Linked DNA regions of Homo sapiens. The protein of the gene in region 1 purifies or fractionates together with the protein of each later gene. This does not show direct contact. Each region holds a gene or a part of one and is shown in the gene's direction. Other genes may lie near its edges.

Region 1 (3,500 bases):
GGAGGCAGGGTGTGGTGGCCACGCCTGTAATCCCAGCACTCTGGGATGCTGGACGCAGTGGCTCATGCCTGTAATCCCAGCACTTTGGGAGGCTGGGCGCAGTGGCTCACGCCTGTAATCCGAGCACTCTGGGACGCCAGACGCAGTGGCTCATGCCTGTAATCCTAGCACTTTTGAGAGGCCGGGGTGGGCGGATCACAAGGTCAGGAGATTGAGACCATTCTGACCAACACGGTGAAACCCCATCTCTACTAAAAATACAAAAAACTAGCCAGGCGTGGTGGCGGGCACCTATAGTCCCAGCTACTTAGGAGGCTGAGGCAAGAGAATCACTTGAACCCAGGAGGCAGACGTTGCAGTGAGCCGAGATTGCACCACTGCACTCCAGCCTGGGCAACAGCGCGAGACGCTGTCTCAAAAAATAATAAAAAAAAGGAAATGTAGTTCCTGTTCACGGGTAGGTTTGTCATCCCCTGCCTGAGCCTCTTCCATCGATGTCTCTTTCCCTGTGTACAGGACATCACCTGTTCCAACCCAGTGTGATCTATTGGCTGGAGCAGGAAGAGGAGTTGAGGGCAGGGCGGAGAGCAGTTCTCCAAGGTAAGTGTGAAGAGCACGCCTGGTCGATGTCAAGTTTAGCAGCTGTGGGAGGATCCTGAGTGTCAAGTTTAGCGGCTATGGAAGGATTGTGTCAAGTTAAGCGGCTGTGGGAGGATCCTGAGTGTCGAGTTTAGCGGCTGTGGAAGAATCCTGAGTGCACGTTTTAAGATGCATTCTGGCACAGAACATGAGGCTGTTGGCTCTGGGTATCCTGAGCTTCCCGTAATTCCTTATTTTCCATCTGATCTGGATTTTCCCTTTCTTGTGATCTCATAAAAAACCTGCTGTTTTGTTCTTTCAGTTTGTGGGTTTTTTTTTTTTTTTTTTTTTTGAGACGGAGTCTTGCTCTGTTGCCCAGGCTGGAGTGCAGTGGCACAATCTTGGCTCACTGCAAACTCTGCCTCCTGGGTTCACTCAGTTCTTCTGCCTCAGCCTCCTGAGTAGCTGGGATTACAGGTGCGTGCTGCCACGCCTGGCCAAGTTTGTGTTTTGAATGTATGCCCTTTGTCCAGCTCTTTCCTGCTTTCTTTCATTGATAATATTGTTTCTGTTCACCTCACATTTCTTCTTTATGGACCAAATGTATTTTAAAATCTTCTAAATTATGACTCCCAGTTCCTATGATTCCAAATTTTACACATAGCCAAACTCCTTAAATCTATCTTTGCTTTGTTTTTTTTTCTGCCATGTCTTATATGAAAACAAATACCAATGAGTTTGATCGTTTTTAGGTCATTCTTCTTTCTTTTCAGAATGGCGACTTAAAACCAAAGGGCCAGCACTTCGGCAGGATAGATCTTGGTTCAGAGCATCAAATGAGACACAGACGGTAAGATTAACAAGAGAGATTTTTTTATTTATCACACTCATAAAAGATTGGGAATTCCACTATAGAAAATGAGCAAAATTGAGAGAATTTAGAGAAGCAGGATTCACTCAGGCAGGGGTTGTCTGTAGAGAACACTCTGAATGTGCGGAATTTGGGAGGACCTCATCCTGTCTTGAAACTTGGTGCTTCAGACACACATCAGCGCACACATGACGAGGTCTTGAGATCGCAGAGCTGTTTTGTGCGCACAGACTTTTCGAAGTTAGAGCAGATGGTGCAGGATTCTTTTTTTTTTTTTTGAGATGAAGTCTCACTCCATCACCAGGCTGGAGCGCAGTGGCACGATCTTGGCTCACTGCAACCTCCGCCTCCTGGATTCAAGTGATTGTCCTGCCTCAGCCTCCCAAGTAGCTGGAACTAGAGGCATGTGCCACCATGCCCAGCTAATTTGTGTATTTTTAGTAGAGACGGGGTTTCACCATGTTGGCCAGGATGGTCTCGATCTCTTGACTTTGTGATCCTCCCACCTCAGCCTCCCAAAGTACTGGGATTACAGGCGTGAGCCACTGTGCCTGGCCGATTCTTTTTTTTGACATGGAGTTTTGCTCTTGTTGCCCAGGCTGGAATGCAACGGCGCAATCTTAGCTCGCCGCAACCTCTGCCTCCCTGGTTCAAGCCATTCTTCTGCCTCAGCCTCCTGAGTAGCTGGGATTACAGGCATGCGCCACCATGCCCAGTTAATTTTGTATTTTTAATAGAGACGGGGTTTCTCCATGTTGGTCAGGCTGGTCTTGAACTCCCGACCTCAGGTGATCTGCCCGCCTCGGCCTCCCAAAGTTCTGGGATTACAGGCATGAGCTGCTGCGCCCGTCCTGATGGCACAGGATTCTTGCAGTGGGGCTCCTCATTTGACTTGAAAGACATCTACAGGGCAGGAGCTGCTTGCATGTTATGAAAATGGCAAAAATCGTAATCATCATCGTCATGCTCTGTCTTCAGCTGGGTGAGATCTATGAATCAGCCTCAGTAACCCCCTGACCACCACTCATTCTTCACCAACAGGCAAGAAGCCACAATGGAGGGCAGCTCTGTGACCGCACGCAGTGTGGAGAAGCTTTCAGTGAACACTCAGGCCTCAGCACACACGTGAGAACTCAAAATACAGGAGACAGTTGTGTGTCTAATCATTATGAAAGGGACTTTTTTATTCCATGCCAGAAAACCTTGTTCAAAATTGGAGAGCAGTTTTCCGTGTTGGGTCAGTGTGGAAAAGCCTTCAGCTCTACTCCAAATGTTGTTTCCCAGCAAGCATGCACTCGGGACAGATCTCTTGACTACAGCAGCTGTGGGGAAGTGTTCCTTAATCAGTCATACCTTCAGGCACGTGCGGGAAGTCACAACGGAGAAGAAACATGGAAATGGAAGCCGTGTGGGAAAGCTCTAACTCACTCCATGGGCTGCGCCACACCTGTTGAAATGCATGCCGTCAGGAATCCCCACGTATGTAGGGAATGTGGGAAGGCCTTTAGGTACACTGCCTACCTTACTGGTCGCGTGCAAGTCCACCCTGGGGAAAAGCCCTGTGAATTGGAAGAATGTGGAAAAGCCTCCCCTGTTTCTTCCAGCCTAACTCAACATGTAAGAATTCATGCTGCAGAGAAACCCTGTGAATGTAAAGAATGCGGAAAAGCCTTCACTGGACTCTCAGGTCTTTCTAAACACGTCCAAACAGACCCTGGACAGAAGCCCTATGAATGTAAGGACTGTGGGAAAGCCTGCGGTGGGTTTTATCTACTGAATGAGCATGGAAAAACTCACACGAGGGAGAAGCCCTTTGCATGTGTGGTTTGCGGAAAATATTTTAGAAATTCCTCATGCCTTAATAATCATGTTCGAATTCACACTGGAATAAAACCCTATACATGCAGCTACTGTGGGAAGGCCTTCACTGTGCGCTGTGGCCTTACTAGACACGTACGAACACACACGGGCGAGAAGCCATACACGTGTAAGGACTGCGGGAAAGCCTTCTGTACATCCTCGGGCCTTACTGAGCATGTAAGGACTCACA
Region 2 (3,500 bases), on another chromosome or scaffold:
GTGAACAGTGTTTCAGAATGGTTGTACTGATTTATACTCCTAAAAGCAGCATATAAGAGTTCCAGTTGATCCATAGCTTCCTAACATGTGATATTTTAACATTTTTATCATTTCAGCTGTTCTCATGGGTACAGAGTAATATCACATTGGTTGTGGTTTTAATTTGAATTTTCTTAATGACTAATTGAATTTAAAATTTTTTTGGGCTGTTTGGATATTCTCTTGTGAAATATCTGTGCATGATTTTTGTTCATTTTTCTTTTGGGAAGTCTCCCTTTTGATTTGTAGTTTTCTGTGCACTTTGGATATAATTTTTTTTTCAGATACATGTATTATGACTATCCTCTCACTCTGTGGTTTGCCTTTTCAATTCCTTAATAATACATTTGATAAACAAAAGTTCTTAATTTTAATTTGGCTTGATTTATTACTTTTTTTAATGGCTAGCACTTTTTGAAATCTTTGCCTACTCCAAGGCTACAAAGATACTGTCCTATGTTTTCTTCTAAAATCTTTATTGTTGGACCTTTCACATTTAGATTCGTAAACCACCAGAATTGATTTTTGTCCATGGTGTGAGGTGAGGGTCAAGTCTTTTTTTTTTTTTTTTTCCAGATGGGACCAATTAATCAGGCTTTTATTTGAAAGACCACTCTCTCTCCTCTTCATTTTCAGTGTTGTCTGTGTCATAAATCATGTGACCATAAATGCATGGGTCTGCTTCTGTGTTCTATTTTTTCATCCTTTACTAATTTCACACTGTCTTAATTAATAAAGTCTTATAATAGGTCTTGATATGTAGCAGTGTATGTACTTTAGCTTTTTTCTTCAGGATGGCCTTGGCTATTCTTCACCCTTTGCATTGAGATTTTGTTAGATCTATAGATTAATCTGGGGAGAACTGACATCTTTACTGAGTTTTCAAATCTATGAACCTAATCCATTTACTTAAGTCATTTTTTTCTAGTAATGTTTTGTTGTTTTTGGTGCAGGGTTCTTACATCTGTTGGTTAGATTTATTTCAGGATATGGATGTTGTTTGATGTTCTTGTGAGAGACATCTATTTTTGTTTTCTATTTACTGCTATTTTATATAATTTGTCCTTTTATGTTTACATATCCAGCAACCTTGCTCAACTCTCTTATTAACTCAAAAGGTTTACTTTTTTGGTAAGACTTTGTTCTTTTAGTAAAGTTTAATGTTTACTTCAATGTTTCATGCTGTAAATTTATGACAGGATGGGAGGACCTCCAAGGAAAAATTGTTGAGATAATTTATGAAGAGGCAGTCTTTAAAATTATCATAAGACTGTGATATAGGAAATCTTCAGGGAACTCTGTCTCTCTCTCTCTTTTTAGAAAATTTTTAGAAAATATAAACTGATGGCCAATTTCCTGAATTAAGAAATAGGCATTTATTGAGTTGATACTATGGTCTGAATGTGCGTTCCTTCAAAATTCATATGTTGAAACCTAACCTTCAAGGTGATGGTATTAAGAGATGGAGCTTTTGGAAGCCAGTAGGTCATGGGAGCAGAGCCCCCATAAATAGGATTAGGACCCTTAAAAAGAGGCCCCAGAGAGCTTTTTGTCCTTTACACATCTGAGGACATAGCTATAAGGCACCATCTATAAACCAGAAAGTAGGCCCTCTCCAGATACCAAATCTGTTACTGTCTTGATCTTGGACTTCTCAGACTTTAGAACTTTGAGAAATAAATTTCTTTGTTTACAAGCTACCAAATTTATGGTATTTTGTTATAACAGACCTAACAGACTAAGACAGATGATATGTGTGAAGATGCAAGTATTTGGCCAAATACAAGGTGGTGTTATGTAAAGCATTTCAAGAGACTGGAGAGGAGGAAGTAAATGACAGATATGAAATTAGTCATATTCATTTATTTATTAACTCAACATTTTTTTAATTACCTATTATGCCTCAGGCACTGTTCTGGGTAATAGTGGTACAGCAATTTGAATGAAAGCATGATAAGTAAGTAAATAATAAGACGCCTGATATGTCACATGGTGATAAGCACTATAGAGAGAAATAAAACAGAGAAGGAAGACAGGGAGTTTCCCCAAATCTGGGGTTGGGATTTAAATAGCACTATCAGTCATGGCCTCACAAAAAGATGTTAGTGCTAACAGGGAATGAGCCATGAGAATGTGTTTTCAACACAGATGGGACAACTACAAAGATCCTTGTGGCTGACAGCAGAGTAAGCTGTGGGAGGTGTAGGGAATGAGATGACAGGCAGGGAAGTGTGGCACACAGATCACATAGGGAAGGAGGCACTGTGAAGACTTTGGATTTTACTCTGCATGAGATGAGAATCTTTTAAAAGGTTTTTAAAAGAAGAGTCATGTGATCTGACAATGTTTTAAAAAGTTCATTCTGGCTACTGAATTGAGACTGGTTTGGTCGAGATGGGGGACAGTCAAAGCAGGAAGCAGTTAGTAGGTTCTTTTAGTAATCCAAGGGAAACATGATGGTAGTGTGGACTGGGGTGGTGGAGGAAGTCCTGAGAAGTGATCAGGTTCTGGATTTGTTTTAAAAGTAGAACCGGCAATATTTCCTAATGATTTGGAAGTGGAGTGTGGGAGAAAGAGAGGTCAAAGGTGACTTCAAAAGTTTTGGCCTAAACAATGGGAAGATATGGCTGCCATTTAATTAAATGACAGGTTTTGAGGGATGATCAAAATTTGTTTTTAGACATGCTAGATTTGATATGTCTGTTCAACATTGAAATGGAGATGTTACATGTGTTAATGTGTACACATACATATGTAATGTGTGTGTATACATATAAGCTGAGTTTAAGGGAGAGGTATAAGCTGGAGATACAAACTTGAGAATCTTAGGTTTGTAAAATAATTTTTTCTAGATATATTCTTTTGAATTGCTCTCATAACTGAAAAAAGTATTAGGACTCACTCTTGATCTGATAATATATAAGGTGTCTAGTCTTTAAAAAGGTTGTTTAAAGACAAAAATTGACTAGGATGTGTAGTGAGTAGAATTGGGAAGGAAGCATGCTATGGACCTCTTTGATTGGTAATGTTTCATTTCTTGCTCACTGATATGGTTTGGCTGTGTCCCCACCTAAATCTCATTTAATTCCCATGTGTTGTGGGAGAGACCTGGTGGGAGGTAATTAGGAAGTATAGCTAACTTGCTTTTGATTTTACAAGCTGATAGGCAAAAGGGACTTGCCTTGTCTCAGATGAGGGACAAGGGGCAATCATTGGGGCAGGTCTTTCCCATACTGTTCTTGTGATAGTGAATAAGTCTCACAAGATCTGATGGTTTTAAAAGCGGGAGTCTCCCTGCACAAGCTGTCCTCTCTTGTCTGCCAGCATGTGAGACTTGCCTTTCACCTTCCATCATGATTGTGAGGCCTCCCAGCCATGTGGAACTGTAAGTCAAATAAACCTCTTTCTACAGTCCAGGCTGAGGTAGTCTTAGTTGGAGATGAGGAACTTGTTGGGAAATG

The links. The genes of interacting proteins can lie anywhere in the genome.
Region 2: the proteins of ZNF778 (region 1) and SNX16 purify together in Homo sapiens (affinity purification with mass spectrometry; one large-scale study listed by BioGRID and IntAct). This does not show direct contact.

The regions. Positions count from the first base shown.
Region 1 is NC_000016.10:89,224,203-89,227,702, forward strand, and holds part of ZNF778 (zinc finger protein 778), read left to right. Parts: intron 1-516; coding exon 517-600; intron 601-1,352; coding exon 1,353-1,429; intron 1,430-2,491; coding exon 2,492-3,500. UniProt on the Homo sapiens protein: May be involved in transcriptional regulation.
Region 2 is NC_000008.11:81,835,686-81,839,185, reverse strand, and holds part of SNX16 (sorting nexin-16), read left to right. Parts: intron 1-3,500. UniProt on the Homo sapiens protein: May be involved in several stages of intracellular trafficking. Plays a role in protein transport from early to late endosomes. Plays a role in protein transport to the lysosome. Promotes degradation of EGFR after EGF signaling.